Linked DNA regions of Homo sapiens: regions 1 and 2 are each linked to region 3. The links come from fine-mapping of genetic effects on plasma protein levels. A gene starts in region 3. Each other region holds a variant in brackets. All regions are shown on one strand. Distances are between the middles of the regions. Region 1 overlaps KYAT1-SPOUT1 (KYAT1-SPOUT1 readthrough). Region 2 overlaps PHYHD1 (phytanoyl-CoA dioxygenase domain containing 1). Region 3 holds the start of KYAT1 (kynurenine aminotransferase 1).

What was found. A credible set is the group of variants that fine-mapping cannot tell apart. PIP is the chance, under the fine-mapping model, that this variant and not a neighbour inherited with it causes the effect. The UK Biobank Pharma Proteomics Project read protein levels with antibody pairs (Olink). The fine-mapping took linkage between variants from a reference panel, not from the people measured, so its PIPs are less certain.
Region 1: its variant is the best candidate, but not a certain one, in a credible set for the plasma level of the KYAT1 protein (UK Biobank, PIP 0.57).
Region 2: its variant is the best candidate, but not a certain one, in a credible set for the plasma level of the KYAT1 protein (UK Biobank, PIP 0.74).

What each region holds. Positions count from the first base shown.
Region 1 is chr9:128,845,652-128,855,892 of GRCh38, forward strand. The region is part of intron 1 of KYAT1-SPOUT1 (KYAT1-SPOUT1 readthrough); the gene reads right to left. All of the region lies in intron 1 of KYAT1 (kynurenine aminotransferase 1), which reads right to left. Among named protein-coding and RNA genes, the nearest start is that of SPOUT1, 21 kb to the left of the region's middle. The variant AAAAAG/A (reference allele first, on the strand shown) is at 4,155.
Region 2 is chr9:128,928,486-128,937,292 of GRCh38, forward strand. PHYHD1 (phytanoyl-CoA dioxygenase domain containing 1) reads left to right here. Exons shown (of 13, transcript NM_001100876.2): 5 at 5,297-5,372; 6 at 5,526-5,573; 7 at 7,963-8,018; 8 at 8,098-8,160. Among named protein-coding and RNA genes, the nearest start is that of PHYHD1, 12 kb to the left of the region's middle. RefSeq lists a silencer at 2,825-3,119. The variant C/T (reference allele first, on the strand shown) is at 3,645.
Region 3 is chr9:128,875,840-128,886,080 of GRCh38, forward strand. KYAT1 (kynurenine aminotransferase 1) reads right to left here and starts at 6,111. Exons shown (of 13, transcript NM_004059.5): 1 at 6,058-6,111. KYAT1-SPOUT1 (KYAT1-SPOUT1 readthrough) reads right to left here and starts at 6,111. Exons shown (of 25, transcript NR_182311.1): 1 at 6,058-6,111. LRRC8A (leucine rich repeat containing 8 VRAC subunit A) reads left to right here and starts at 6,294. Exons shown (of 4, transcript NM_019594.4): 1 at 6,294-6,411; 2 at 10,176-10,241. RefSeq lists enhancers at 6,181-6,330, 9,607-10,241 and a silencer at 6,361-6,640.

The DNA of each region.
Region 1 (10,241 bases), 30 kb before region 3:
GCTGCCTGGCGCCTGCCCAGTGGAGACTTCCAGCCCTGGCTCCATGCGTCCTGAGACAGAGCCCTGACTTGGCCAGGTTAAAGTCTGACTCAGGAAGGGCTGAGGGTTAAAGAAGAGGAGCAGGAGGTGGGTGGAGCGGAGAGGGAGGATAATGGCAACAGTGACAGCAGCAGCCTCCACTTACAGAGGTCTTGCTAAGCACTTCCATTTCATTCCCTGAATGACCTGGTCAGGCCTATCTTATCAATGAGAAAACAGAAGGTGGAAAACAGAGGCTGGAGGGTGCAGGAGGGGGAGTGATGTGTTTAAGGCCACACAACACACACACTCAGACTTAGGCCTGTTGGACCCAAGGCCATGTCCTAACTCTGAGGGAGGCACTAATCCGCTCCTCGGAGGGTCCCGGGGTCCTGGCTCCTGGCTCGCCCCTCCCCTCCCGGTGTTCCTCCCAGGCCAGCTCCCTCCTCAGCCACTGGTGTGCAGAAACTGGCCAGGGGCTGGGCACAGTGGCTCACGCCTGTAATCCCAGCACTTTGGGAGGCTGAGGCGGGCAGATCACCTGAGGTCAGGAGTTCGAGACCAGCCTGGCCAACATGGTGAAACCCCCATCTCTACTAAAAATACAAAAATTAGCTGGGCGTGGTAGCACGCACCTGTTATCCCAGCTACTTGGGAGGCTGAGGCACAAGAATCACTTGAACCTGGGAGGCAGACATTGCAGTGAGGCAAGAGCACACCACTGCACTCCAGCCTGAGCATTAGAGTGAAACTCAGTCTGGGAAAAACAAACAAAGAAACTTATCTGGGCGTCATGACACATGCCTGTAATCCCAGCTACTCAGGAGGCTGAGGCCTGAGAATCACTTGAACCTGGGAGATGGAGATTGCAGTGGGCCAAGATCGTGCCAGCCACTGCACTCCTGCCCGACCCAACGAGCAAGACTCTACCAAAAAAAAAAAAAAAAAAAAAAAAAGAAAGAAAGAAATTGGCCAGACCTGAGAGCCACCAAACTCAGGTCCTAACCCACCTTGGCTGGGTGACCCTGGATAGGTAATTTGGCTCCTCCTGTCCTCAGAATCCCTTCAGCAGCAGGGACCTCACATGGGCTTTGTGGTCCCTGAGGAACCTTCCGTTCCTGTGGGTTTGCCAGTCCCAGATGGCTGGTGGGCCGTGGAGCTGGGGATCCAACATTCTTCTCAGCCACCTGCTGTGGTCAATAGTGAACCCTGGCTCAGGATTTTGCTCAGTTCCACCTCGCTCAGTTCCCACTGCACTCTCACTAGAGGTGCCACAATAGTCTCCATCTAACAGATGAGGACACTGAGGCTTGAAGAGGCTCAGGTACCTGCCCAGGGTCAGAAGAGAAGCTGGCAAGGACCTGGTCAGGGTGGCAGCCACAGTAATCTCAACACCAGGCCCCCCTGTCCTGGAGGGGCCTTGGGACCATTTGAGTAAGTGCCAGGTCTTCCATGGCCCAGGAACCCCACCGCGCCTGGCTCAGTTGACATTTATTGAGTCCCTACCAGGTACTGGGTTCTGGGATGGGCACAGGGGATCATGGGAAGCAGCACCCTACAGCGCCCAAGCTGACTATTCAGATGCAGAGCTACAAGTTCTAGACTAGAGAAGCAGGGGCAAGGGAGAAGCCCACATACAGGCTGCAGTTAAAGAGGGCTCCCTGAAAGAGAAGGCTCATGCACAGCTTTGAAGCCAGGAACGAGCCAGACCCCAGAAGCCCCAGGCCATGCAGGTGGCAGAGTATTGGGGTTAGGGCACTTACAGTCTGGTGCAAGAACCAAGTGAGTGGGGCTCCAGCCTTCCTTCCCTGAAGGGGCCCCACCAGGTGCACAGAGATGGCTGCTGCAGTCCTGAACATGCCTCCCAGAGCCTTGGGGCACTGCAGACTTTTCCAGAGGCAGGGGAGAAGGGAGGAAACAGCCCTGGCCAGAAAATGCCTCCGAGCTCAGGACTTGGGTCCCCCACACACAGCTCTAACAATAACAACAACAACAACAACAACAACAACAACAATATGGTCATTGCGTGCCAGGAATAGCACCAAGTGCTCTGTTGCATGATTATCCGACTCCGTCCTTATAAGAACCCTGTTACTCATATACAATACACCCCCCAGCAACCCAAGTGACCCTTTCAAAACACAAATCACCTCTAATTAAAAAATGATCCAGGAGAGGATCACTGATAGCCCTGAATATCACCAAGAGCATAAACCAAACATGTTCTGACTCTGGAAACACATACACCACCTGCAAATTATTCCTGCTGTAAAAGTGGCCCTAAATTAGATCACACTGTTGAATGACTAAAATACAGGGACAGAAGAACATGTTAAATAACACCATGGAGATGCAATCAACAAATTCAAGCAGGGCAATGTGTCTCACACCTGTAAACTCAGCACTTTGGGAGGCCAAAGCAGGAGGATCTCTTGAGCCCAGGAGTTTGAGACCAGCCTGGGCAACATACTGAAACACCGTCTCTACAAAAATACAAAAATTGACCAGGTGTGATGGTGCACACCTGTAGTCCCAGCTACTGGGGAAGCTAAAGTGGGAGAATCACTTGATCCTGGAGAGGTCAAGGCTACAGTGAGCCATGATCCCACCACTGCACTCCAGCCTGGGCGACAGAGGGAGATATGTCTCAAAAAAAAAAAAAAAAAAAAAAGTAAATGCCTGAAAAAGAAGAAAAAAATTGAAGAAATCACACTGCACAATTTGGAAGCTTAATGCAAACATACAGGAACCAAGAAAGTGTGATACTGCTTAAAGATAGATATATAAGTCAATTGAATAGAACTGACAGTCCAGAAATAAATGGTCACAATTGCTATTTGATAAGATGCTAAGAAACTCAAATGGGGGCCAGGCATGGTGGCTCACGCCTGTAATCCCAGCACTGTGGGAGGCTGAGGCGAGTGGATCACTTCAGGTCAGAAGTTTGTGACCAGCCTGGCCAACATGCTAAAACCTCGTCTCTACTAAAAATACAAAAATTAGCCAGGCATGGTGGTGTGCACCTGTAATCCCAGTTACTGGGAGGCTGAGGCAGAAGAATCACTTGAACTTAGGAGGTGGAGGATGCAGTGAGCCGAGATCACGCCACTCACTGCACTCCAGCCTGGGTGACAGAGTGAGACTCTGTCTCAAAAAAAAAAAAAAAAAAAAAATTGGGAGGCTGGGTGTGGCTCATGCCTGTAACACGAACACTTTGGGAGGCCAAGGCGGGAGGATCATTTGAGGTCAGGAGTTTGAGACCAGCGAAACCCCATCTCTAATAAAAATACAAAAAATTAGCTGGGTGTGGTGGCACATGACTGTAGTCCCAGCTACTTGTGAGGCTGAGGCAGGAGAACTGCTTGAACCTGGGAGGCAAAGGTTGCAGTGAGCCAAGATCGTGCCACTGTACTCCAGCCTAAGCGACAAAATGAGACTGTCTCAAAAAAAAAGGTGGGGAGGCCAGGCATGGTGGCTCATGCCTGTAATTCCAGCAATTTGGGAGGCTGAGGTGGACGGATCACCTGAGGTCAGGAGTTCGATACCAGCCTGGTCAACATGGTGAAACCCCATTTCTACGAAAAATACAAAATTAGCAGGGCATGGTGGCACATGCCTGTAGTCCCAGCTACCCAGGAGGCTGAGGCAGGAGAATCGCTGGAACCCAGGAGGCGGAGGTTGCAGTGAGCCGAGATCACACCACTGCACTCCAGGCTGGGTGACAGAGCAAGTCACCGGCTCAAAAAAAAAGCGGGGGTGGGGGGTGGGAAATAATAATCTTTTCAACAAATGAACAAATGGTGCTGAGACAACTAAATATCCACATGTAAATGAATGAATTTGGGGCCAGGCGTGGCAGCTTATGCCTGTAATCCCAGCACTTTGGGAGGCCGAGGCAGGCTGATCATGAGGTTAGGAGCTCAAGACCAGCCTGGCCAAGATGGTGAAACCAAGATGGTGTACTAAAAATACAAAAAATTAGCCAGGCATGGTGGTTGGCACCTGTAATCCCAGCTACTCAGGAGGCTGAGGCAGAGAATTGCTTCAACTTGGGAGATGGAGGTTGCAGTGAGCCGAGATCACGCCACTGCACTCCAGCCTGGGAGACAAAGTGAGACTCTGTCTCAAAAAAAAAA[AAAAAG/A]AAAAGAAAAGAAAAGAATGAATTTGGACCTCTATCTCACAGAATACACACATATAAATTTTTTATTTTCTTCTTTTTTTTTTTTTTTTTTTGAGATAGGGTCTCACGTTGTTACCCAGGCTGGAGTGCAGTGGTGCCTTCTCAGCTCACTGCAGCCTCGACTTCCTGGGTTCAAGTGATTCTCCTGCCTCAGCCTCCTGAGTAGCTGGGATTATACGTGTGTGCCACCATGCCTGGCTAATTTTTGTATTTTAATTAGAGATGGGGTTTTGCTATACTGGCCAGGCTGGTCTTGAACTCCTGGCCTGAAGTTGTTCTGCTCATGACGGCCTCCCACAGTGTTAGGATTGCAGGCATGAGCCACCATGCCTGGCCAGCCCAGGCTGTTCTTGAACCCCTGACTTCAAGCGATCCTCCTTCTTCAGTGTAGGGAAAAGAAAGAGAGATCAGACTGTTACTGTGTCTATGTAGAAATGGAAGACATAAGAAATTCCATTTTGACCTGTACCTTGAACAATTGCTTTGCTGAGATGTTGTTAATTTGTAACTTTGCCCCAGCCACTTTGCCCTAACTTTGAGCTCACAAAAACATGTGTTGTAGGGAACCAGGGTTTAAGGGATCTAGGGCTGTGCAGGATATGCCTTGTTAACAAAATGTTTACAAGCAGTATGCTTGGTAAAAGTCATCGCCATTCTCTAGTCTCAATAAACCAGGGGCACAATGCACTGCAGAAAGCCACAGGGACCTCTGCCTTGGAAAGCCGCGTATTGTCCGAGGTTTCTCCCCATGTGATAGTCTGAAATATGGCCTCGTGGGATGAGAAAGACCTGACCGTCCCCCAGCCCAACACCTGTAAAGGGTCTGTGCTGAGGTGGATTAGTAAAAGAGGAAAGCCTCATGAAGTTGAGATAGAGGAAGGCCACTGTCTCCTGCCTGCCCCTGGGAACTGAATGTCTCAGTATAAAACCTGATTATACATTTGTTCAATTCTGAGATAGGAGAAAAACCACCCTATGGCGGGAGGCGAGACACATTGGCAGCAATGCTGCCTGCTATTCTTTACTCCACTGAGATGTTTGGGTGGAGAGAAACATAAATCCGGCCTACATGCACATGCAGGCATAGTACCTCCCCTTGAACTTAATTATGACAGATTCTTTTGCTCATGTTTTTTGCTGAACTTCTCCTTATTATCACCCTGCTCTCCTACTGCATTCCTCTTGCTGAGATAATAAAAATAATAATCAATAAAAAGTGAGGAAACTCAGAGACCGGTACTGGTGCAGGTCCTTGATATGCTGCATGCCGGTCTCCTGGGCCCACTGTTGTTTCTCTACACTTTGTCTCTGTGTCTTATTTCTTTTCTCAGTCTCTCATCCCACCTGACGAGATATCCCACAGGTATGGAGGGGCAGGCCACCCCTTCATCTGACGCCCAATATGGGGCCTTTCTCCAGGGTGAAGTTATGCTGAGAACGTGAGTATTGAGGACAGCTGATGAGAGATTCCCGAGTACGTCCACGGTCAGCCTTGCAGTATGCTTGTGCGCTCGGAGGAATCCAGGGTAACAATGGGGCAAACTGAAAGTAAATATGCCTCTTATCTCAGCTTCATTAAAATTCTCTTAAGAAGAGGGGGAGTTAAAGCTTCTACAGAAAATCTAATTACGCTATTTCAAACAATAGAACAATTCTGCCCATGGTTTCCAGAACAAGGAACTTTAGATTTAAAAGATTGGGAAAAAATTGGCAAGGAATTAAAACAAGCAAGTAGGGAAGGTAAAATCATCCCACTTACAGTATGGAATGATTGGGCCATTATTAAAGCAACTTTAGAACCATTTCAAATAGAAGAAGATAGCATTTCAGTTTCTGATGCCCCTGAAAGCTGTGTGATAGATTGTGAAGAAGAGGCAGAGACAGAGTTCAAGAAAGGAACGGAAAGTTCACATTGTAAATATGTAGCAGAGCCGGTAATGGCTCAGTCAACGCAAAGTGTTGACTACAATCAATTACAGGAGGTAATATATCCTGAAACATTAAAATTAAAAGGAAAAAGTCCAGAATCATTGGGGCCATTGGGGCTACAACCACAATGGCCACCTCCTCCTCAGCCGAGTGAGTGCTGGGGGAGGCAGCCTGAAACTAGGCACACTGCGACTTGGCTCGTGGCACTCATTATTGCCCAACCTACAGTTCACTACAGTGAAGGAGCAATTCAGACTCGCCCTGCAGTGTCCTGTATGGGTCAAACAGTGGCCACTCTCTAAGGAAAAGTTGGGGGCGCTACATAAAATAGTTAAAAAACTATTTAAAAAAGGACATGTTTCACCCACTTTCTCTCTTTAGAATTCTCCTGTGTTTGTAATTCAGAAAAAATCAGGCAGATGGCGCATGCTGACTGACTTAAGAGCTGTTAATGCCATAATACAACCCATGGGTGCTCTCCAACCCGGGATGCCCTCTCTGGCCATGATCCCCAAAGACTGGCCTTTAATTATAATTGATCTGAAGGACTGCTTTTTTACCATTCCTCTGGCAAAACAGGATTTTGAAAAATTTGCTTTTACTATACCAGCCGTAAATAATAAAGAACCAGCCAGGTTTTAGTGGAAAGTGTTGCCTCAGTCCAACTATTTGTCAGACTTTTGTAGCTCAAGTTCTTCAACCAGTTAGAGACAAGTTTTCAGATTGTTATGTCATTCATTATGTTGATGATATTTTGTGTGCTGCAGAAACAAGAGACAAATTAATTGACTGTTACACATTTCTGCAGACAGATGTTGCAAACGCAGGACTGACAATAGCATCTGATAAGATTCAGACCTCTACTCCTTTCCATTATTTGGGAATGCAGGTAGAGGAAAGGAAAATTAAACCACAAAAAATAAAAATAAGAAAAGACACATTAAAAAACATTAAATGACTTTCAAAAATTGCTAAGACATATTAATTGGATTCGGCCAACTCTAGGCATCCCTACTTATGCCATGTCAAATTTGTTTTCTATCTTGAGAGGGGATCCAGACTTAAACAGTAAAAAACCATTAACTCCAGAAGCAACTAAAGAAATTGAATTAGTTGAAGAAAAAATTCGGTCAGCACAAGTAAATAGAATAGATCATTTAGCCCCACTCCAACTTTTGATTTTTGCTACTGCACATTCTCCAACAGGCATTATTGTTCAAAATACTGATCTTGCAGAGTGGTCATTCCTTCCTCACAGTACAACTAAGACTTTTACATTGTACTTAGATCAAATGGCTACATTAATTGGTCAGGCAAGACTACATATAGTAAAATTGTGTGGAAGTGACCCAGATAAAATCATTGTTCCTTTAAACAAGGAACAGGTTAGACAAGCTTTTATCAATTCTGCTGCATGCCAGATTGGTCTTGCTGATTTTGTGGGAATTATTGACAATCATTACCCAAAAACAAAAATCTTCCAGTTCTTAAAATTGATTACTTGGATTTTACCTAAAATTACCAGATATAAACCTTTAGAAAATGCTCTGATGGCGTTTACTGATTGTTCCAGCAATGGAAAAGTGGCTTAAACTGGGCCAAAAGAACAAGTCATTGAAACTCAATATCACTCAGCTCAAAGAGCAGAGTTGGTTGCTGTCATTTCAGTGTTACAAGGTTTTAATCAGCCTATTAACATTGTTTCAGATTCTGCATATGTAGTACAGGCTACAAAGGATGTTGAGACAGCCCTAATCAAATATAGTATGGATGATCAGTTAAATCAGCTGTTTAATTCGTTACAACAAACTGTAAGAAAAAGAAATTTCCCATTTTATATTACTCATATTCGAACACATACTAATTTACCAGGGCCTTTAACTAAGGCAAATGAACAAGCTGACTTGCTAGTATCATCTGCATTCATAAAAGCATAAAAACTTCGTGCCTTGACTCATGTAAATGCATCAGGACTAAAAAATAAATTTGATATCATATGAAAACAGGCAAAAAATGTTGTACAACATTGTACTCAGTGTCAAGTCCTACATGTGCCCACTCAGGAGGCAGGAGTTAATCCCAGAGGTTTATGTCCCAATGCATTATGGCAAATGGATGTCACACATGTACCTTCATTTGGAAAATTGTCATTTGTCCATGTGACAGTTGATACTTATTCACATTTCATATGGGCAACCTGCCAGACAGGAGAAAATACTTCCCATGTTAAAAGACATTTATTATCTTGTTTTGCTGTCATGGGAGTTCCATAAAAAATTAAAACAGATAATGGGCCAGGATACTGTAGTAAAGCATTTCAAAAATTCTTAAATCAGTGGAAAATTACACACACAACAGAAATCCCTTATAATTCCCAAGGACAGGCCATAATTGAAAGAAGTAATAGAACACTCAAAGCTCAATTGGTTAAACAAAAAAAGGAAAAGGACAGTAAGGAATATAACACTCCCCAGATGCAACTTAATCTAGCACTCTATACTTTAAATTTTTTTAACATTTATAGAAATCAGACCGCTACTTCTGCAGAACAACATTTTACTGGTAAAAAGAACAGCCCACATGAGGAAAAACTGATTTGGTAAAAAGACAACAAAAATAAAACATAAAAAATAGAGAAGGTGATAACGTGGGGGAGAGGTTTTGCTCGTGTTTCACCAGGAGAAAATCAGCTTCCAGTTTGGGTACCTACAACTTACAGAAAAAGTTGCCATCCACCAAAAAAGCGAAGCCGCCGACCTGGGCCCAGCTAAAGAAGCTGACACAGTTAGCTGAAAAAAGCCTAAAGTACACAAGGGTAACACAAACTCCAGAGAATATGCTGCTTGCAGCTTTAATGATTGTATCAATGGTGGTAAGTCTCACTATGTCTGCAGGAGCAGCTGCAGCTAATTATACTTACTGGGCCTATGTGCCTTTCCCGCCCTTAATTCAGGCAGTCACTTGGATGGATAATATTCTATTGAAGTATGTGTTAATATTAGTGCATGGGTACCAGGACCCACAGATGACCGCGGCCCTGCCCAACCTGAAGAAGAAGGAATGATGATAAACATTTCCACTGGGTATCATTATCCTCCTATTTGCCTGGGGAAAGCACCAGGATGCTTAATGCCTACAACCCAAAATTGGTTGGTAGAAGTATCTACTGTCAGTGCCACCAATAAATTTACTTATCATATGGTAAGTGGAATGTCACTTGGGTCACAAATGAATAATTTACAGGACTCTTCTTATCAAAGATCATTAAAATTTAGGCCTAAGGGGACCTTGCCTCAAGGAAATTCCCAAAGAATCAAAAGACCCAGAAGTCTTAGTTTGGGAAAAATATGTGGCTGATACTGTGGTGGTATTACAAAACAATAAATTTGGAACTATTATAGACTGGGCCCCTCAAAACCAATTATATTATGGTTGTATGGGCCAGACTCACTCATGTTCACAGACCCCATCTGTCTGGCCCACTAATCCGGCCTATGATAGTGATTTAACTGAAAGGCTAGACCAGGTTTATAGAAGGCTAGAATCACCCTATCCATGGAAATGGGGTGAAAAGGGGATTTCATCACCTCAACCAAAGTTAGTTAGTCCTGTTACTGCTCCTGAACATCCAGCATTATGAAAGCTTACTGTGGCCTCGCACCACATTAGAATTTGGTCTGGAAATCAAGTTATCGGAACAAGAAATCATAAGCCACATTATACTATTAACCTAAATTCCAATCCGACAATTCCTTTGCAAAGTTGTGTAAAACCCTCTTATATGCTAGTTGTAGGAAACATAGTTATTAAACCAGATTCCCAAACTATAACCTGTGAAAATTGTAGATTGTTTACTTGCATTGATTCAACTTTTGATTGGCAGCACCATATTCTGCCAGTGAGGGCAAGAGAGGGTGTGTGGATCCCTGTGTCCATGGACCGACCGTGGGAGGCTTCCCCATCCATCCATATTTTAACAGAAGTATTAAAAGGAGTTCTAACTAGATCCAAAAGATTCATTTTTTACTTTAATTGCAGTGATTATGGGTCTTATTGCAGTCACAGCTACTGCTGCGGCTGCTGGAATTGCTTTACACTCCTCTGTTCAAACTAC
Region 2 (8,807 bases), 52 kb after region 3:
TGAGGTCAGGAGTTTGAGACTAGCCTGGCCAACATGGTGAAACCCTGTTTCTACTAAAAATACAAAAATTAGCTGGGCCAGGTGATGCATACCTGTAATCCCAGCTACTTGGGAGGCTGAGACAGGAGAATCGCTTGAACCCAGGAAGTGGAGGTTGCAGTGGGCCAAGATCATGCCACTGCACTCCAGCCTGGGCAACAGAGCAAGAATCCTGTCTCAAAAAAAAACAAAAACAAAAACAAAAAACTGATATATCTTGGTTTATAATGCATGCAAAGAAAAGAGCTTGGCATGGTGCCCAGCACTCAGTAACATCCTCAATATTCACTCTTGATACTGTGAGAAAAAAAAAGATCAGTGGGCGTCCTGTTTCATTTTCTTGGGTTACCTCCAGCTTTCCTTGTTTGAGTTATTTTACAACACTGTAAGTTGGATAAAACTGATAATAATGCACATGATACTTGTCCAAGTAGGGGGTCAGTACCACTCTGTTCCAATCACGTTACCATGAACTGGGTCCTGGGGAATGCAATTATTGCCCTGTGGATAGAACAGTTGGGCAGCTGGGTGTGGTGGCTCATGCCTGTAATCCCAGCAGTTTGGGAGGCCAAGCAGGGAGGATCGCTTGAGCCCAGGAATTCGCAAACAGCCTGGTCAACAAAGTGAGACCTGTCTCTACAAAAAAATTTTTTTAAATTAGCTGGGCATGGTGGTATATGCCTGTGGTCCCAGCTACATGGGAGGCTGAGGCAGAAGGATCACTTGGGGCCAGGAGGTTGAGGCTGCAGTGAGCTATAATCATGCCACTGCACTCCAGTCTGGGTGGGTGATAAAGAAAGACCCTGTCTCAAAAAAACAAAACAAAACAAAAAACAGTTTGCATCTATCTCTAAATTCATTTCAAGGGCCAGGAGTGGTGGCTTATACCTGTAATCCCAGCACTTTGGGAGGCTGAAACAGGCAGATCGCTGGAGGTCAAGGGTTCAAGACTAGCCTAGGGAACATGGTGAAACCCGGTCTCTACCAAAAATACAAAAATTAGCTGGGCATGGTGGCAGGCGCCGGCGGTCCCAGCTACTTGGGTGGCTGAGGCAGGAGAATCGCCTGAACCCTGAAGGGAGAGTTTGCAGTGAGCTGAGATTGTGCCACTGCACTCCAGCCTGGGTGACAGAGCGAGATTCTATCTCAAAAAAAAAAAAATTCATTTCAGTTTCCTTAGTATCTACATACGTGTGTGTGTAATTCTTGGAATTCTCCTTTGAACCAGTTGTAACATCTTACTGGTTCCCTCATGAAATAACGAATTCAGTAAAATATTTGACATATGCTTAGCATCATTACCTTTAATATTTTTACCATCCAGGCATGGTGGCTCAAGCCTATAATCCTAGCACTTTGCAAGGCCAAGGCAGTGGACAAATCACTTGAGCTCAGGAGTTTGAGACCAGCCTGGGCAACATGGTGAAACCCTGTCTCTACAAAAAATACAAAAAAAAAAAAAATTAGTCGTGGCCGGGCATGGTGGCTCATACCCGTAATCCCAGCACTTTGGGAGGCCAAGGCAGGCAGATCATTTGAGCCCAGGAGTTCAACACCAGCCTGAGCAACATGGCAAAACCCCATCTCTACCAAAAATCCAAGAAAATTAGTTGAGAGTGGTGATGCACGTGTGTAATCCTGGCTACTTGGGAGGCTGAGACAGGAGGATAGCTTGAACCCAGGAGATGGAGGTTGCAGTGAGCCAAGATTGCGCCACTGGACTCCAGCCTGGGGGACAGAGTGAAACCCTGTCTCAAAAAAAAAAAAAAAATTAGGCATGGTGGTGTGAACTTGTAGTTCTAGCTACTTAGGAGGCTGAGGTGGAAGGATCACCTGAGCTCAGGAAGTCAAGGCTACAGTGAGCCGTGATCCCATTGCACCATTCACTCCAGCCTGGCCAACAAAATGAGACACTGTCTTTTTAAAAAAAAAAAAACAAACCCTGGCATGGTGGCTCATGCCTGTAATCCCAGCACTTTGGGAGGCTGAGGTGGGCAGATCACCTGAGGTCAGGAGTTCAAGACCAGCCTGACCAACATGGAGGTTGAGGTGAGCCAAGATCGCGCTAATGCACTCCAGCCTGGGCAAGAGTGAACCTCCGTCTCAAAAAAAAAAAGAAAAAAACAAACAAAAAAAGCACCTCGGCCGGGTGCAGTGGCTTACGCCTGTAACCCCAGCACTTTGGGAGGCCGAGGCGGGGGGATCACAAGGTCAGGAGATCGAGACCATCCTGGCTAACACAGTGAAACCCCATCTCTACTAAAAATACAAAAAATTAGCTGGGTGTGGTGGCGGGCACCTGTAGTCCCAGCTACTCGGGAGGCTGAGGCAGAAGAATGGCGTGAACCCGGGAGGCGGAGCTTGCAGTGAGCCGAGATTGGGTCACTGCACTCCAGCCTGGGCGACAGAGCGAGACTCTGTCTCAAAAAAAAAAAAAAAAAGGCACCTCAATTTCTTCTTCTATAAAATGGAGATTATAGTAGACCCTACCTCTCTGGGTTTTGGGAGGCTGAGTAAGATAACACATGTACAGGCATGTCTCAGAGATAATTCAGGTTTGGTTCCAGACCACTGCAATAGAGCCAGGATTTTTTTGTTTTGTTTGAGATATATTTTCGCTCCTGTCATGCAGGCTGGAGTGCAGTGGCGTGATCTCAGCTCACTGCAATCTCCACCTCCTGGATTCAAGTGATTCTCCTTCCTCAGCCTCCAGAGTAGCTGGGATTACAGGCGTGTGCCACCACGTCCTGCTAATTTTTGGATTTTTATTAGAGACGTGGTTTCACCATGTTGGCCAGGCTGTCTCGAACTCCTGACCTTAGGTGATCCACCCGCCTTGGCCTCCCAAAGTGCTAGGATTACAAGCATGAGCCACAGCACCCATCCTAGAGCCAGGATTTAAACCCAAGGATTTCAGCTCCAGAATCTGTGTCCTAACTGCTATAAGATTCAGCCTCTGGCTGAAGCCTCCAAGAATTGAGGAGGTCAGTTTTTTGTTTTTCTTTTTCTTTTTTTTTTGAGACGGAGTCTCGCTCTGTCACCCAAGCTGGAGTGCAGTGGCGCGATCTCGGCTCACTGCAAGCTCCGCCTCCTGGGCTCACGCCATTCTCCTGCCTCAGCCTCTGGAGTAGCTGAGACTACAGGCGCCCGCCACCACACCCGGCTAATTTTTTGTATTTTGTTTAGTAGAGACAGGGTTTCACCGTGTTAGCCAAGATGGTCTCGATCTCCTGACCTCGTGATCCGTCCGCCTCAGCCTCCCAAAGTGCTGGGATTACAGGCGTGAGCCACCTCGCCCGGCCTTTCTTTCTTTCTTTCTTTCTTTTTGAGATGGAGTTTTGCTCTTGTTGCCCAGACTGGAGTGCAATGGTGCGATCTTGGCTCATTGCAACCTCCACCTCCTGGGTTCAAGCAATTCTCCCATCTCAGCCTCCCAAGTAGCTGGGATTACAGGTGCATGCTACCACGCCCGGCTAATTTTTGCATTTTTAGTAGAGATGGGGTCTCATCATATTGGTCAGGCTGGTCTCAAACTCCTGACCTCGGGTGATCTGCCCACCTCAGCCTCCCAGAGTGCTGAGATTAAAGGCATGAGCCACCGCACC[C/T]GGCCTGGGGAAGTCAGTTCTATTATTATTATTATTATTGTTATTATTATTATTATTTTTTTTTTTTGAGATGGAGTCTCGCACTGTCACCCGGGTTGGAGTGCAATGGCACAATCTCAGCTCACTGCAACCTCTGCCTCCTGGGTTCAAGCGATTCTCCTGCCTCAGCCTCCTGAGTAGTTGGGATTACAACAGGTGCCCACCACCACACTCGGCTAATTTTTTGTACTTTTGTTTTTATTTTTATTTTTTCTTGAGATGGAATTTCGCTCTTGTTGCCCAGGGTGGAGTGCAATGGCACGATCTTGGCTCACCGCAACCTCCGCCTCCCAGGTTCAAGCAATTCTCCTACCTCAGCCTCCCGAGTAACTGGGATTACAGGCATGCGCCACCATGCCCGGCTAATTTTGTAATTTTAGTAGAAATGGGGTTTCTCCACGTAGGTCAGGCTGCTCTTGAACTCCTGACCTCAGGTGGTCTGCCCTCCTTGGCCTCCCAAAGTGCTGGGATTACAGGTGTGAGCCACTGCACCCAGCAATTTTTTGTATTTTTAGTAGAGACGGGGTTTCACTATGTTTGCCAGGTTGGTCTTGAACTCCTGATCTCGTGATCCGCCTGCCTCAGCCTCCCAAAGTGCTGGGATTACAGGTGTGAGCCACAGTGCCTGGTTGGTCAGTTCTATTATTATTCCTTATTTATTTATTTATTTATTTATTTATTTATTTATTTATTTTTTGAGACAGAGTCTTGCTCTGTTGCCTAGGCCAGAGTGCAGTGGCCCAATCTTGGCTCACTGCAAGCTCTGCCTCCCGGGTTCACGCCATTCTCCTGTCTCAGCCTCCGGAGTAGCTGGGACTACAGGTGCCTGCCACCATGCCCGGCTAATTTTTTGTATTTTTTTTAGTAGAGACGGGGATTTCACCATGTTAGCCAGGATGGTCTCGATCTCCTGACCTCGTGATCCGCCCACCTCGGCCTCCCAAAGTGCTGGGATTACAGGCATGAGCCACTGCACCCAGACTTTTTTTTTTTTTTTTTTTTTTGAGACAGAGTCTCACTCTGTCGCCCAGGCTGGAGTGCATAGTGCAATCTCGGCTCACTGCAACCTCCGCCTCCCATGTTCAAGTTATTCTCCTGCCTCAGCCTCCCGGGTACCTGGGACTACAGGTGCCTACCACGCCCAGCTGTTTTTTGTATTTTTAGTAGAGACAAAGTTTCACCATGTTGGCCAGGCTGGTCTCGAACTCCTGGCCTCAAGTGATCTGCCTCAATATGCTGGGATTACAGGTGTGAGTCGTTACTCCCAGCCATTATTATTCCTTTTTTTACAGATGAGAAAATGAAGTCTTGGTGACATAAAACCAGGGGCCCAAGGCTGCTAGGGAACCAGCCCTATTCGACTCTAGCATCCATGTTCTGAATCACAGTATAGTGAGGTGTCCAAGAAATTCCATGTTTGCATCTTTGGGGTGTGCTTCCAGGCACTTGAAGTTCTGGCTCACTGTCTGTGCCTCAGTGGACAAGTCTGAGAAGCCCCCAGGGTGTCTGTAACCCTGTGAGGGTGGGAAGCTTCTGAATCCGCCTCCCTCTTTGCCAGGCCCAGCTCTGACCCCAGGATGCTGTCTCAGTCCTCTGATGTCCCCTTTCCACAGGGCAGCACAGACTATTTCTTGAGCAGTGGTGACAAGATTCGATTCTTCTTTGAGAAAGGCGTTTTTGATGAGAAAGGTTTGGAGCTGGGGCCCTAGAGCTGGGGAGGAGCCATGGTGAGGGTAGGCTGGACCTGGGAATCTGCCCCCTGGGCTGGAAGCATGCTGAAGCCAGCTGCCCATGGAAGGCTGGACACCAGTTCTCTGCCTTTATCTGTTCTTTGTGCCACAGGAAATTTCCTGGTCCCTCCGGAGAAATCCATCAACAAAATTGGCCACGGTGAGCAGGGGCTTGGGGGTACAGGAAAGAAGATCGGGGAACAGGCTGGGAGTGGTGGCTTACACTTGTAATCCTAACTAACACTTTGAGAAGTCAAGGTGGGCAGATCACTTGAAGTCAGGAGTTCAAGACCAGTCTGGCCAACATGGTGAAACCCCATCTCTACTAAAAATAGAAAAAATTAGGTGAGTGTAGTGGTGCACACCTGTAGTCCCAGCTACTCAGGAGGCTGAGGCAGGAGAATTGCTTGAACCTGGGAGGCGGATGTTGCAGTGAGCTGAGATGTGCCATTGCACTCCAGCCTGCCTGGGTGACAGAGACAGAGTGAAACCCTGTTAAAAAAAAAAAAAAAAGAAAAGGAAAAAGCATGGGGAAACTGGGGAAACTGAAGCCTGAAGAGTTTAGGAGCTTTAATGAAAGCCCATAGTGGCTGGGCGTGGTCGTTCACGTCTGTAATCCCAGGACTTTGGGAGGCCAAGGTGGGTGGATCACCTGAGGTCGGGAGTTCAAGACCAGCCTGACCAATGTGGAGAAACCCTGTCTCTACTAAAAATACAAAATTAGCTGAATATGGTTGCGCATGCCTGTAATCCCAGCTACTTGGGAGGCTGAAGCGGGAGAATAGCTTGAACCCGAGAGGCTGAGGCTGCAGTGAGCCGATATCATGCCATTGCACTCCAGCCTGGGCAACAAGAGTGAAACTCCGTCTCAAAAAAAAAAAAAAGCAAACAAGAAAGAAAGCCCATAGTAAATTAGTGGTCGGGTAAATGGCATTTGTGGCTTCAGGCTCCCCTCTGGTCTTGGGCCCCTCTGCTAATCATGACACTGCTGCCACAGCACTGGGGATAGGGGGTCCACCTGATCCCCCCTAACAGGTGGGCATGTGCAGGCTCTCTACTGCCTGGCCTGGGGGAGCTCCTGGGTCCAGTGCTCCCTAGAGCCACCCTAAGGGGCACCTGACCTGCTGACAGGGTCCCTATTCTGACACCCCAAAGTCAAGTAAGAAAACCCTCACTTTTTTTCTTTAGGATCATACATTATAATTTGTTTTATAGGCTATTTATTTTTTTAAATAAAATTGAGAGGAGGTCTCGTTATGTTGCCTAGGCTGATCTTCAACTACCGGGCTCAAGTGATCCTCCTGCCTTGGCCTCTCAAAATGCTGGGATTATAGGCATAAGCCACTGCACTTGGCCTAGAATGCTTATTGTTAAGCCTGAAGTTATATCATGGTAAGCTTGTAGACAAGTTGTGGTAAAATACACGTAAGATTTACCATATCATTGCCGGGCGTGGTGGCTCACGCCTGTAATCCCAGCACTTTGGGAGGCTGAGGTGGGCGGATCACGAGGTCAGGAGATCGAGACCATCCTGGCTAACACAGTGAAACCCTGTCTCTACTAAAAACACAAAAAATTAGCCGGACCTTGTTGTGGGCGCCTGTAGTCCCAGCTACTGCCACTGCACTCCAGCCTGGGCAACAGAGCGAAACTCTGTCTCAAAAAAAAAAAAAAAAAGAAAAGATTTACCATATCATCATAACCCTTTTAAAGTACGTAGCTTGGCCGGGCGCGGTGGTTCACGCCTGTAATCCCAGCACTTTGGGAGGCCGAGGCGGGTGGATCACGAGGTCAGGAGTTCAAGACCAGCCTGGCCAATATGGTGAAAAACCATTTCTACTAAAAATACAATAATTAGCTGGGCGTGGTGGCACATGCCTGTAGTCCCAGCTGCTCAGGAGGCTGAGGCAGGAGAATCGCTTGAACTAGGGAGGTGGAGGTTGCAGTGAGCCGAGATTGTGCCACTGCACTCCAGCCTGGGCGACAGAGTGAGACTCCATCTCAAAACTAAATAAATAAATAAAAATAAAAAGTACATAGCTCAGTGGTATTAAATGCATTCAATCTTATGTTTATGACAATGAGGGACTATCCCATGCCAGGCCCTGGGCTGTCCCTGCACATTCATTAGCCCATCGAGTCCCACACCAGTCCTGCCTCCCAGGTTCTTCTAATCCTCATTTGACAGAAGAGGAAACTGAGGCTTACAGGAGAGAAATGGTTACCCGAGGCCACACAGAGCAAATGGTGGTACCGAGATTGCTCCGCATGATTGGTGCCTTGGAGCCCTTAGTCGTCTGTGAGGGGTGGGGAGTCGGGGCTGGACTGAGCTTCCCAGAAGGTCAAGAATAAGGGCATGGGTGGCATAGGGCCTGGGGTGGGGGCAAGGCTCCTGTGGAGCCCATTACTCAGTTGTAAACAAGCAGAAGGGTTAATGCCTACAAAGTAAGTGAGAATGTCAAAGTAAGCCTGAGTGTGGGTGCCCAGAGCTGGGTGTGGAGGGACACGTGGGCCTGAGATGGGGCCGACAGCTTCCTTCTGTCCCATAGCTCTGCACGCCCACGACCCCGTCTTCAAGAGCATCACACACTCCTTCAAGGTGCAGGTGAGCAGAGGTGGGGGTGAGGGCCAGGAGGGTGGGCCATGTGTGGCAGGCTGGCAGCATGACCTTTGCCCCCCTCCAGACCTTGGCCAGAAGTCTGGGCCTCCAGATGCCCGTGGTGGTGCAGAGCATGTACATCTTTAAGGTGAGCTCCTTGTCCTTGCCTCAGTTTACCATCTGTAAAATGGGCAGACTGCTCATACCAAGCCCTTCCTTACAATGGGCCAAAAGTTGCTGGAATTATTATGTTGGTGGGAGAACATGGAAAATCGGTCTCCTCTGGCTAAAGCACCTGGAACTTAGTTGATCCTCAGTTAAAATTTGGTGGTAGGGGCCGGGCGTGGTGGCTCATGCCTGTAATCCCAGCACTTTGGGAGGCTGAAGCGGGCAGATCACCTGAAGTCAGGAGTTCGAGATCAGCCTGGCCAACATGGAGAAACCCCATCTCTACTAAAAATACAAAAATTAGCCGGGCGTGATGGCACACACCTGTAGTCCCAGCTACTCGGGAGGCTGAGGCAGGATAATTGCTTGAACCCAGGAGGTGGAGGTTACAGTGAGTGGAGATCACGCCAATGTACTCTAGCCTGGGGGATAGAGCAAGGCTCCGTCTCAAAAAAAAGAAAAATTTGGCCAGGCGCAGTGGCTCACGCTTGTAATCCCAGCTCTCAGGGAGGCAGAGGTGGGAGGGTAGCTTGAACCCAGGAGTTTGAGACCTGCCTGGGCAATATAGCGAGACCCCATTCTCCACAAAAAGGAAGAAAAAAAAAAAGAAAAAAAAATTTGGTGGTA
Region 3 (10,241 bases):
TATCAGCCTGGGCAGCTACTGGCCATTTGCTTGACCCGAAGGCAGTGGATGACCCCTGGGCCCGTGGAATGCATCACTGATGCATTCCAGGGGCTGATGTCAATAACCCAGGGGCTGATGTCAGCTATGCCACTGTCCCCCAACCCCCATTGGACCAGCTCTGCCCAGAAGCCTGTGGTGACACTGGACAAAGTCCAAAGCCTCCTCAGCCTGGCGTTTGGAGCCGGCTGGAATCCAGGCTTGGCAGCCTCCACCTTCCCTCCCTTTACTCTTTTTTTATTTTAGAGATAGGGTCTCGCTTTGTCACCTAGGAGCCTTGAACTCCTGAGCTCAAGTGATCCTCCTGCCTCAGCCGCCTGAGTATCTGGGACTATAAGTGCATGCCCCAACCCCCAGCTCAAATTCTTTGCTTTTAAAAAAAAAAAAAAATAGAGACAGGGTCTCCCTATGTTACCCAGGCTGGTCTTGAACTCCTGGGCTCAAGTGATCCTCTGGTCTTGGCCTCCTAAAGTCCTGGGATTACAGCTTGGATTATAGGCATGAGACACCACACCCAGTCATCCTTTGTTCTTTTTTTTTTTTTTTTTTCTGTTTTTGAGACAGAGTCTGGCTCTGTCGCCCAGGCTGGAGTGCAGTGGCGTGATCTCAGCTAACTGGAAGCTCCACCTCCCGGGTTCACGCCACTCTCCTGCCTCAGCCTCCCGAGTAGCTGGGACTACAGGCGCCCGCCACCACGCCCTGCTAATTTTTTTTGTATTTTTAGTAGAGACAGGGTTTCACCATGTTAGCCAGGATGGTCTCAATCTCCTGACCTCGTGATCCGCCTGCCTCGGCCTCCCAAAGTGCTGAGATTACAGGCATGAGCCACGGCACCCGGCCTTTTTTTTTTTTTTTTCTTGAGATAGAGCCTCTCTCTTCACTCTGTCACCCAGGCTGGAGTGCAGTGGCACAATCTTGGCTCACTGCAACCCCCACCTGCCGGGTTCAAGTGATTCTCCTGCCTCAGCCTCCCAAGTAGCCGGGATTACAGGTGCACGCCACCACGCCCAGCTAATTTATTTTTATTTTTATTTTTTTGAGATGGAGTCTCACTCTTTCACCCAGGCTGGAGTGTAATGGCACGATCTCGGCTCACTGCAACCTCTGCCTCCCGGGTTCAAGTGATTCTCCCACCTCAGCCTCCCGAGTAGCTGGGATTACAGGCACCCACCATCATGCTCGGCTAATTTTTGTATTTTTGTAGAGATGGGGTTTCACCATGTTGGCCAGGCTGGTCTTGAACTTCTGGCCTCTGGTGATCTGCCTGCCTTGACCTCCCAAATTGCTGGAATTACAGGTGTGAACCACTGTGCCCAGCCACCCTTTGCTTTTGAATAAATGTTGCCCATCTTCACTCAAGCTGTTTCCCCTGCCTGGCATACCCTCCAATCCAAAATCCCTAGCAGGGCCTAGCCCCACCTGTACCTCCTCTCTGAAGCTTCTGTGTCCACCCAGGCCCTTTGCTGAACTCAGAAAGCACCTACCTGTGCCTGACCCTCTCCCCCAACCCCATGCTAAATTCTCTAATCCTCATCACAGCTGATTAGGATGGTATTATTTACTCTATTTTGCTCAAAAGGAGAACAAGGAAAACTCACTCAGCCTAGAGAGCTCCAGCTGTGATTCAAACCCTGGTTTGCCTATTTCCAAAGTCCAAATTCTGTCCCGTGAAATCTCCTCTCAGGCGGGTGCTAGGGCTGACAGGAGACCACCAGCCCCTTGGGGACAGGAGCCATGTCTTGTCCAACTTCACCTTGCATGGCTGCTTACAAGGGCAGGCGAGGTGACCATGCCTTCCCAGGGTGGCCCCACGTCACATCACTCAAGTCAATTATGACATTCGGTTTTGGAGCTTCTCAATAGGGGCACACTTAGAATTTGAGATGAGTCAGTTCTTCACTGGGGAGAGCTATCTGGAGCCTTGAAGGATGTTTAGCATCCCTGGGCTTAAAATGCCAGGAGACTCCCAGTTACTGAGACAACACACATCGTGGCACCTCTAGAGAAAGGGTACAGAACTGGGGATACCATGCCCAGGAAGACCAGTCTAGTGCATGAATAACCACAGAAGACCAAACCTTGGACTTGGATCAAATAGTCCCAGCTCCACCATAAACTAGCTATGGGACCTTGGTCATGCCAGGCCGCAGCCTCTTGGGGGCTCAGCTTCCTCATCTGTACAATGAAGGTGACAAGAATCCACAGAGAATATACTGTGGGTCCTGGCTCACAGCCACTTGTCAATGACAACAAGCTATTAACTTTTTTTTTTTTTTGAGACAGTCTTGCTCTATCGCCCAGGCTGGAGTGCAGTGGCACAATCTCGGCTCACTGCAACCTCTGCCTCCCAGTTTCAAGCGATTCTTGTACCTCAGCCTCCAGAGTAGCTGGGACCACAGGCACGTGCCACCACACCCAGCTAATTTTTGTATTTTTGATAGAGATGGGGTTTTACCACGTTGCCCAGGTTGGTCTCGAACTCCTGAGCTCAAGCGATAGTCCCACCTCAGCCTTCCAAATTACTGGGATTATAGGCATGAACCACCACACCCAGTCAACAAGCTATTAACATTTAAACCTACCAGGCTTTCCATAAAATTAGTAACCAAGCAAAATGAAAAATCTCTTATTATATAATGAATCCAAATTTTTTTTGATAGAAAAAAAACAGAATTCCCTGAAGACAAATGTTTGGTGACAATTTGTTGAGCCAATGTTTTCCTGGAGAGAACAGCCTGTCTGAGGAGATCTAACAATTGCGTCACTCAGACACAGTCCCCCTGGGCTTAGGAATTGGCAGAGGAGAGAGAAATGACTTCTGGAGTCCAGACGGCAGGTTTACAGGCTGGAGGGGTTGGTGGAAGACCTGAGTGACACAAACAGTAGGTATCTCACCACTTATTCCTCCTGGCACAGGACCCAGATTCAAAAACCACAATCTCACTCCCATACATTAAAGGAACACACAACAGATAGGCAGATAGCCTCGCGGGAGCCTTGGAGGAGGTGGCATCAGCTTTACAGGTGGGGAAACTGAGGCTTAGAGAGGGGAAATGACTTACTCGAAGTCCCAGAAAAGCACCAGGAGGCCCCCAGCTGCAAGCTGGGGAATGAGGGCATAGGATGAGCATTTTAAAAATTATGCCGGGAGGCCGGGCGCGGTGGCTCACGCCTGTAATCCCAGCACTTTGGGAGGCCGAGGTGGGCGGATCACAAGGTCAGGAGATAGAGACCATCCTGGCTAACACGGTGAAACCCCGTCTCTACTAAAAATACAAAAAATTAGCCAGGCGTGGTGGCGGGTGCCTGTAGTCCCAGCTACTTGGGAGGCTGAGGCAGGAGAATGGAGTGAACCCGGGAGGTGGAGCTTGCAGTGAGCCGAGATTGCACCACTGCACTCCAGCCTGGGCGACAGAGTGAGACTCCGTCTCAAAAAAAAAAAAAGGAATTATGCAGGGAACTGGCAGTGCCATCCAGGAGTGGGATGTGGCCCCAGGTCTGTTCTGGCAGGAGTTACAGTGACTGCCTCATGGCTGTGAAGGCTCCTGCATTCCTTTATCGCCCCCACCTGGATTATAAAATCAGGCGCCCTACTCTTTGGAGCTTGGAGAGGTTAGTGTGGCGTTCTGGTGGTTGGCACCTAATGGAGGCATTCTCCGGGAGGAAAGATTCCTGCTGAAGCCAGACTGAATGGGTCTAACTTGTATATTCTCCAATCCTGTTGGTCACCCTCAGTTTCTTAGTGGACACCAAGGCCAAGTCCAGGGTAGGAGCCCATCTCTCCTTGAGTCTCCAGCCTCATCATTTCTCCTTCTGGACATCCTAGTTTCCAGTCACATTGAAAGTCCCTTCCTTGGAGAAGCCCCTTCTGACTCCACCCAGGCTAAGCCACATGTCCCCTCCCAGGTGGTCCCAAGACCTGGGCTTCCGCCCTCAAAGTACTCAGCACGGGGGCGCTCAACTCCAAGGACAGGAACTATGTGCTTGACCTGTTCTCCACCAGATCCTCAGCCTCTGGCAGCTCACCCAGCACAGAGTAGGTCCCCCAGGCATTAGCACAGATGATCCTGGGAAGCTAAGGGAGAGGCCTGGGAGCCCAGCAGCCTTCCTAGGGAGGGAGGGAGACCTGTAGGAACCCCCTTCTGGCAACTTTCTTAATCTCTCTGTGCCTCACTTATCTGTAAAATGAGACTTATCTGCGTGTAAAATACAAAGTATAATACGTGGGAACATTCACTGTCTACAACTGTGGTTCTGGTTGTTCATTTTACAGGCGGGGACATGGAGGCCCACGGAGTACCTGGCAGGCCCACAGTCCACAGGTTGGAAAGAGGTGCCCAAGCCCTGGACTTTAAGCCTGGGCTCTGACCTTCAACGTTTGCTTTTCACACCACACATCATGTCAATAAATAGTTACTGGATGCCTGTTGTGTGCCAGGCCCCAAGACGGGTGTTGCGTGACTGACAACAGAAAAAGCATCTCAGTGGCGAGGGATAAGCTAGATCATGGGCATTAGTGTAAATCTCCCAGGGTTCAAATTCCAGCTTCTCCACTTCCTGGCTATGATTTTTTTTTTTTTTTAGACGGAGTCTTGCTCTGTTGCCCAGGCTGAAGTGCAGTGGCCCAATCTCAGCTCACTGCAAGCTCTGCCTCCCAGGTTCATGCCATTCTCCTGCCTCAGCCTCCCGAGTAGCTGGGACCACAGGCGCTCGCCACCACACCCGGCTAATTTTTTTGTATTTTTAGTAGAGACGGGGTTTCACCGTGTTAGCCAGGATGGTCTCGATCTACTGACCTCGTGATCCGCCCGCCTCAGCCTCCCAAAGTGCTGGGATTACAGGTGTGAACCACCGCGCCCGGCCCTGGCTATGATATTGCTAAGTTTCCTAACCTCTCTAAGGTTCTTTTCTCTTCTATTAAAAGGGAAAAATAAGACCTCCCAACAGAAGTGAAACTAGGCATTGGCTTAACACGTGATGGATGGGAGCCACGACTATCTTCATCATCTTATTTTTAATTATCTATCTGTGCACATGGTAGTAAATTTCTCGCCCTGGCCCAGGTACCCAAGACCCCAATTCTGTCGGAGACAACCGCAATTAACAACTTCTTGTGCATCTTATCAGACAGCTGGCGCGCACACCCGCAGATACGCCCACCCTCAGGCGTCCTTCTACGCAAAGATGGATAGCACCCATCAACGCTGTTTTTTCTTTTTTTAGACGGAGTCTCGCTCTGTCGCCCAGGCTGGAGTGCAGCGGCGCGATCTCGGCTCACTGCAAGCTCCACCTCCCGAGTTCATGCCATTCTCCTGCCTCAGCCTCCAGAGTAGCTGGGACTACAGGCGCCCACCACCACGCCCGGCTGATTTTTTTGTATTTTTAGTAGAGATGAGGTTTCACCAAGTTAGCCAGGATGGTCTCGATCTCCTGACCTCGTGATCCGCCCGCCTCGGCCTCCCAAAGTGCTGGGATTACAGACGTGAGCCACCGCAACCGGCCCAACGCTGTTTTTACTGTTGTTTCCTTTTTTAACCTAAGGTATCTTAGAAGTCACCCTACATTAGTGCATATTAAACATTGTTCGTCTTAATGGCTGCACAGTATTCCACTGTATGGATTATTTTTTAATTTGGTTGCCGGTACTGTTATCAGCCAGGGAATTTGCGAGGACCCAGCGGGATTTATGGAGCTGCAGAGTTGGAGTCTGGGGACCCAATTCCAACCCCAGATCTGTCCAGAATTCTGTTGTCTCGGGTATCATCTCCACCGGCGCGGTCGTGGGAGGGGGATTTGGGTGCAGACAGGACCAGCCCCAGTGTCCGAGCGAGAATCAGCGAGCAGCACGCGCAGTTGATTCCCGCGGGCGGCTCAATCATTCTGTGCAGCCACTCCGTTATACTTAGTAGCATCAAACTCATTAAGCACTCTAGCACAACCAAGCTCGGAACCGTTAGCCGACCCTCCCAGCCTCGGCACCTGACCTTGGGGAAGTGGCGCTCCGACACAGCTACTCACCCTCACCTGGGCCGCTTCACCCCTCGTTCCCAAGTACACCCCGTAGGTTGCAGCAGTCCCTGTCCCTTTAAGGGGGCCGAGCCCGGCTCCGCTACTTCCGCCCCGAAGCAGCAGGGCGCTAGCGCGGAGGCGAGAGCGGGAGAAAGCGCCGCTAGAATTCTCCTCATAAAGATGGCGACGCCCTGGCCGCCGCGTTCGCGCCCGGCGGTGACGTCACTTCCGGGGCGGAGGAGGCTGAGTGGTGCAGTGAGGGACAAACAAAAGGAGGCGCCGGAGCAGCGCTGCGGCCGGCGGCGGGACGGAGCGGCCGGGGCCTGGGGCTGCCTGCCGGGCGGCCGGGCGCGGCGAGCCCAGGTGAGTGGACGGGGTGGGGAAAGGGGCGCGAGCTGTCACCTCTCGAAACCCACTTACACACGCCCTCGGCCAGCTGCCCGGCCCGGGGCGCCCGGGGCATCTGGGGCTCTGTCTCCGGGCCGGCCCCCTGGGGACCTCCCGCGGTGTTCGGCCTACCTCTGGGCTCCCCAGTGCCCGGAGTCTCCGGGGCACCACCTTCTCGCCGGCTCCGCGGCGCGCGAGCCCCCTCCCAGGCACCCCTGTGCCTCCTTGTGCTTCAGAAACCAGGAGTTTCCGCCTCGGCTCCCCCATGTCCCCTTGTCATCCCCTGGGTCCCCCCAGATCCTCACCCCTCCACACACACTCTCCCGTTCCTAGAGGTTCCACCTCTGGGCTCTCTCCTTGCCATTTCTTTTTCAAAGATTTCCTTAGCTGTCTTCTCCTGAGTTCCTGGTCCCCTTCTCTTCCCTTGCACCCCTCCTTCCTATCGTTCCGATGGGGGCAGTGCCCTGACTTGGGGGCAGGATCCCCGGCTAGGCTCTTGGGGCCTTTCTGGGATGGGATATTTGGGAAGACCGGTCCGGAATCTAAGAACCCAGACCCTGTCCCAGTCCTGTGCATTCAGGTGGGCCCGAGGGCGAGGCGAGATCCAGTGAGGTCCAGGCCTGGTGCAGCCCTAGGTGAGCTGGATACCCAGCAAACTGAGCTCCCAGGCTGAAGGGGCATAGCTGGGGTCATGGAGTTCATGATGATTCTGCTGCTTTCGCTGACTGCTTCTTCCCCTTGATCTGGACCGGGGTGAACCGAGGTCTGCCGGTTCTCAGCTGTTGCGATTGTTGCCTTTTTTGGGAAGGAGGGATGGGTCGGGGGTTGTCTGGTAGCCGCCTCCTGATGGAGACTTGGCTGGAAGGGTGGGCGGTTCCTGGGTGAGCCACACTTCCACTGACTCCTCTTCCCCTGCCCTACCTCAGGAAGCCTTTTGAGAATGAGGTGTGGAGGGAGAGCACCTGGTAAGAGGAAGGGAACTGGGGGAGCCCGAAGTTCCCAAGGACCTCTTCCACCTCTTCTGTTAGTAGTACTCTTAACCCCTGCCAAACTGTATTCTGCCCTTTGGAGCAGACAACCTGGCAGACAGACAGGCTGTAAGAAGCGGGAGGAGATCGGCTGTTGCTGATACTTCCTGTGGAGGGGATGTGGGAGTGGGAGTTTGTTCAGAGAGACTGGGCAGTGCTGATTGCTCAGTCTCACTGGTGTTGCTTCCATGAAGGTCAAGTCTTCCTCTGGCTCATGAAGTGAGGCAAGGACAGATGACCTGTGCTGGAGGAGGCTGTTGTGGACATGCCAGGGATGAGTGACTGGGTGGCTGGTCTCTGCTTCCTTGTTTTCCTGGTCTCAGGGCTTTGGCATGGGGTCTGATGCCCTCTGCGTTCTAGGGACCATAGGGTACAGAGCAGGGGGTGCAGGGCCGGGCGTGGTGGCTCACGCCTGTAATCCCAGCACGTTGGGAGGCTGAAGCGGGCAGATCACGAGGTCAGGAGTTCGAGACCAGCCTGGCCAACATAGTGAAACCTTGTCTCTACTAAAAATACAAAAAATTAGCCAGGCATGGGGCTGCGCACCCGTAATCCCAGCTATTCGGGAGGCTGAGGCAGGAGAATTGCTTGAACCCAGCAGGCAGAGGTTGCAGTGAGCCAAGATCGCGCCATTGCACTCCAGCTTGGGCAAGAAGAGCAAAATTCCATCTCAAAAAAACAAAAAAAAAAACAGAGCGGGGGCACAGGAAATGTTCATGACTTCCCCCCAGAACTTGACTAGATGTGGTGGTTCTCCATCCCTTAGGCACACCCACCAGGAAGCCGTTTCCTTTGCAAACTCTTGAATGACCTTTCTGGACTGTAGGGAATCCTGGGGATCACTGCCGTGGGTCAGAACTCAGGGAAGTGGCCGGACCCTGGGTTGCTGCCTGGCTTGGCCTGGACCTTGCCTGTAGGAGTTGGAGGGAAATCAGCCTGGTTCCTGACTGCCTCGTCTTAGAGTAGAGCTGATTCCAGGTTTTCACATGGAGAAACTGAGGCACACACTGATGGGCCAAGACCTCTTGGAGATTCAGGTGGGATGGATGTGGGGCTCTTAGAGCCCAGCACAGTGTCTCTCCATGCCTTGACTCATTCATTCATTCATTCATTCATTCAGCCATTCTTTAGAAAGTGCCTGTCTTGGGCCTGGGATGGCTGGGAAAACATCCCTGGCCTCCTGAGAGCTGCAGTCTGGGAGGACAGGCAAACCAGAAGACACATAAGTTCTGATATACTGTGGCCACCATATTAATAGAAATATTACAGAGGCAGCCCAGAGGAAGAAGGAATTAGCTCTGGGTGGTTATGTAGGGGGTGGTCAGGGTATGCTTTCTGGAAGAGGAGGGACTAGAATAATTAGTGACAGGGAGTCCAGGGGCCCAAGTTCTGGACCTGGCTCTGCCATGGGCAGGTGATTGGACCACCCAGCCTCAGTGGGTGCCCCATCCTTGACAAGGAGGGTAGAGTGAGGTAGAGGTTGGCTTGGATGGCCTCCGTGCCTATATAGCTGTAGGTACTTTACTGCCTAGTCACCACCACCCCGTATGGAATTGCAGGGTTATTGACCTACCTCCCATGACGGCGGAGACCATCTTCCATGTCTGCCCTCCCAGCACAGGGCCTGGAACTTAGTCAATATAGTAAATACCCAGTGGTAGAAATGATGGAAAAACAGCCATCCCTCCTAGATCAGTCCAGGTGTCTTTGTCTACCCCCGCCCTCCTCCTTCCTGGGTAACTCCTGCTGATCCTTTGGCTCTCTCTGGTGGCTGGGCCACTCTCCCAGCTCCTGGCTCCCCGAAACCCGTGTCGTAGTGATCACAGCTTTCCCTACCCTGCCACTCCCATGCACAGTTCTGCACAGTGTCTGGCGCATATGGAGTAGATGCTCACCAGAGGCTGGTTGACTGTCGGAGATGATGGGTGGATTTGGTGTTTAAGTTGGAGTCTGGGCACTGGCTGGTCTCTGCCTGACCCAGCCACCCCACTGTGGCTCATCTCTTGCCACTTCCCCTCTCTGGCTCTGGATCTCGCCATGCCGAGCCCGCAAGCCTTCTCCAGATGCCATGTACTCTCTCCTCCAGGTAAACATGTGCTGTTCCTCCTGCCTGGAATGCTCTTTTTCCAGCTCCTACTCTTAGGAGTCAACTCAGACAACTCCTCCTCCAGAAAGCCTTCCCTGACCCCACTAGTCTGGGTCTAGTGCTTCTCCTGGCTCCCCCGCAGCAGAGCTCTGAGCTCTCAGACCGTCGCTACTGACTTGGCACCTCCTCAGTAGACCAGGTTCTGGAGGGAGGTGCTCTGTCAGAACCTCTTTTGTCTGCCAGGCGCGGTGGCTCATGCCTGTAATCCCAATACTTTGGGAGGCCGAGGCGGGCAGATCCCTGGAGGTTAGGAGTTTGAGAGCAGCCTGGCTAACATGGGGAAACGCTGTCTCTACTAAAAATACAAAAAATTAGCCAGGCTTGGTGGTGCGCACCTGAAATCCCATCTACTCGAGAGGCTGAGGCAGGAGAATCACTTGAATGCGGGAGGCGGAGGTTGCAGTGAACCGAGATTGCACCACTATACAAAAAAAACCTCTTTTGTCACCCCAGAGCCCAGCCAAGGGCCTGCTACCAAGCAGGCTCTCAGGAAGTGCTGGCGGTGTGGCAGGTAACTGCGACAGTCACACATGTGCCTGCTGACGGCAGCTCTCGCTTCCTTGTAGGGAGGCAGCGTCCATGGAGCAAAAGGAATGCCAGGATCCTGCACAGGCAGACGCGGGCCAGCCTCA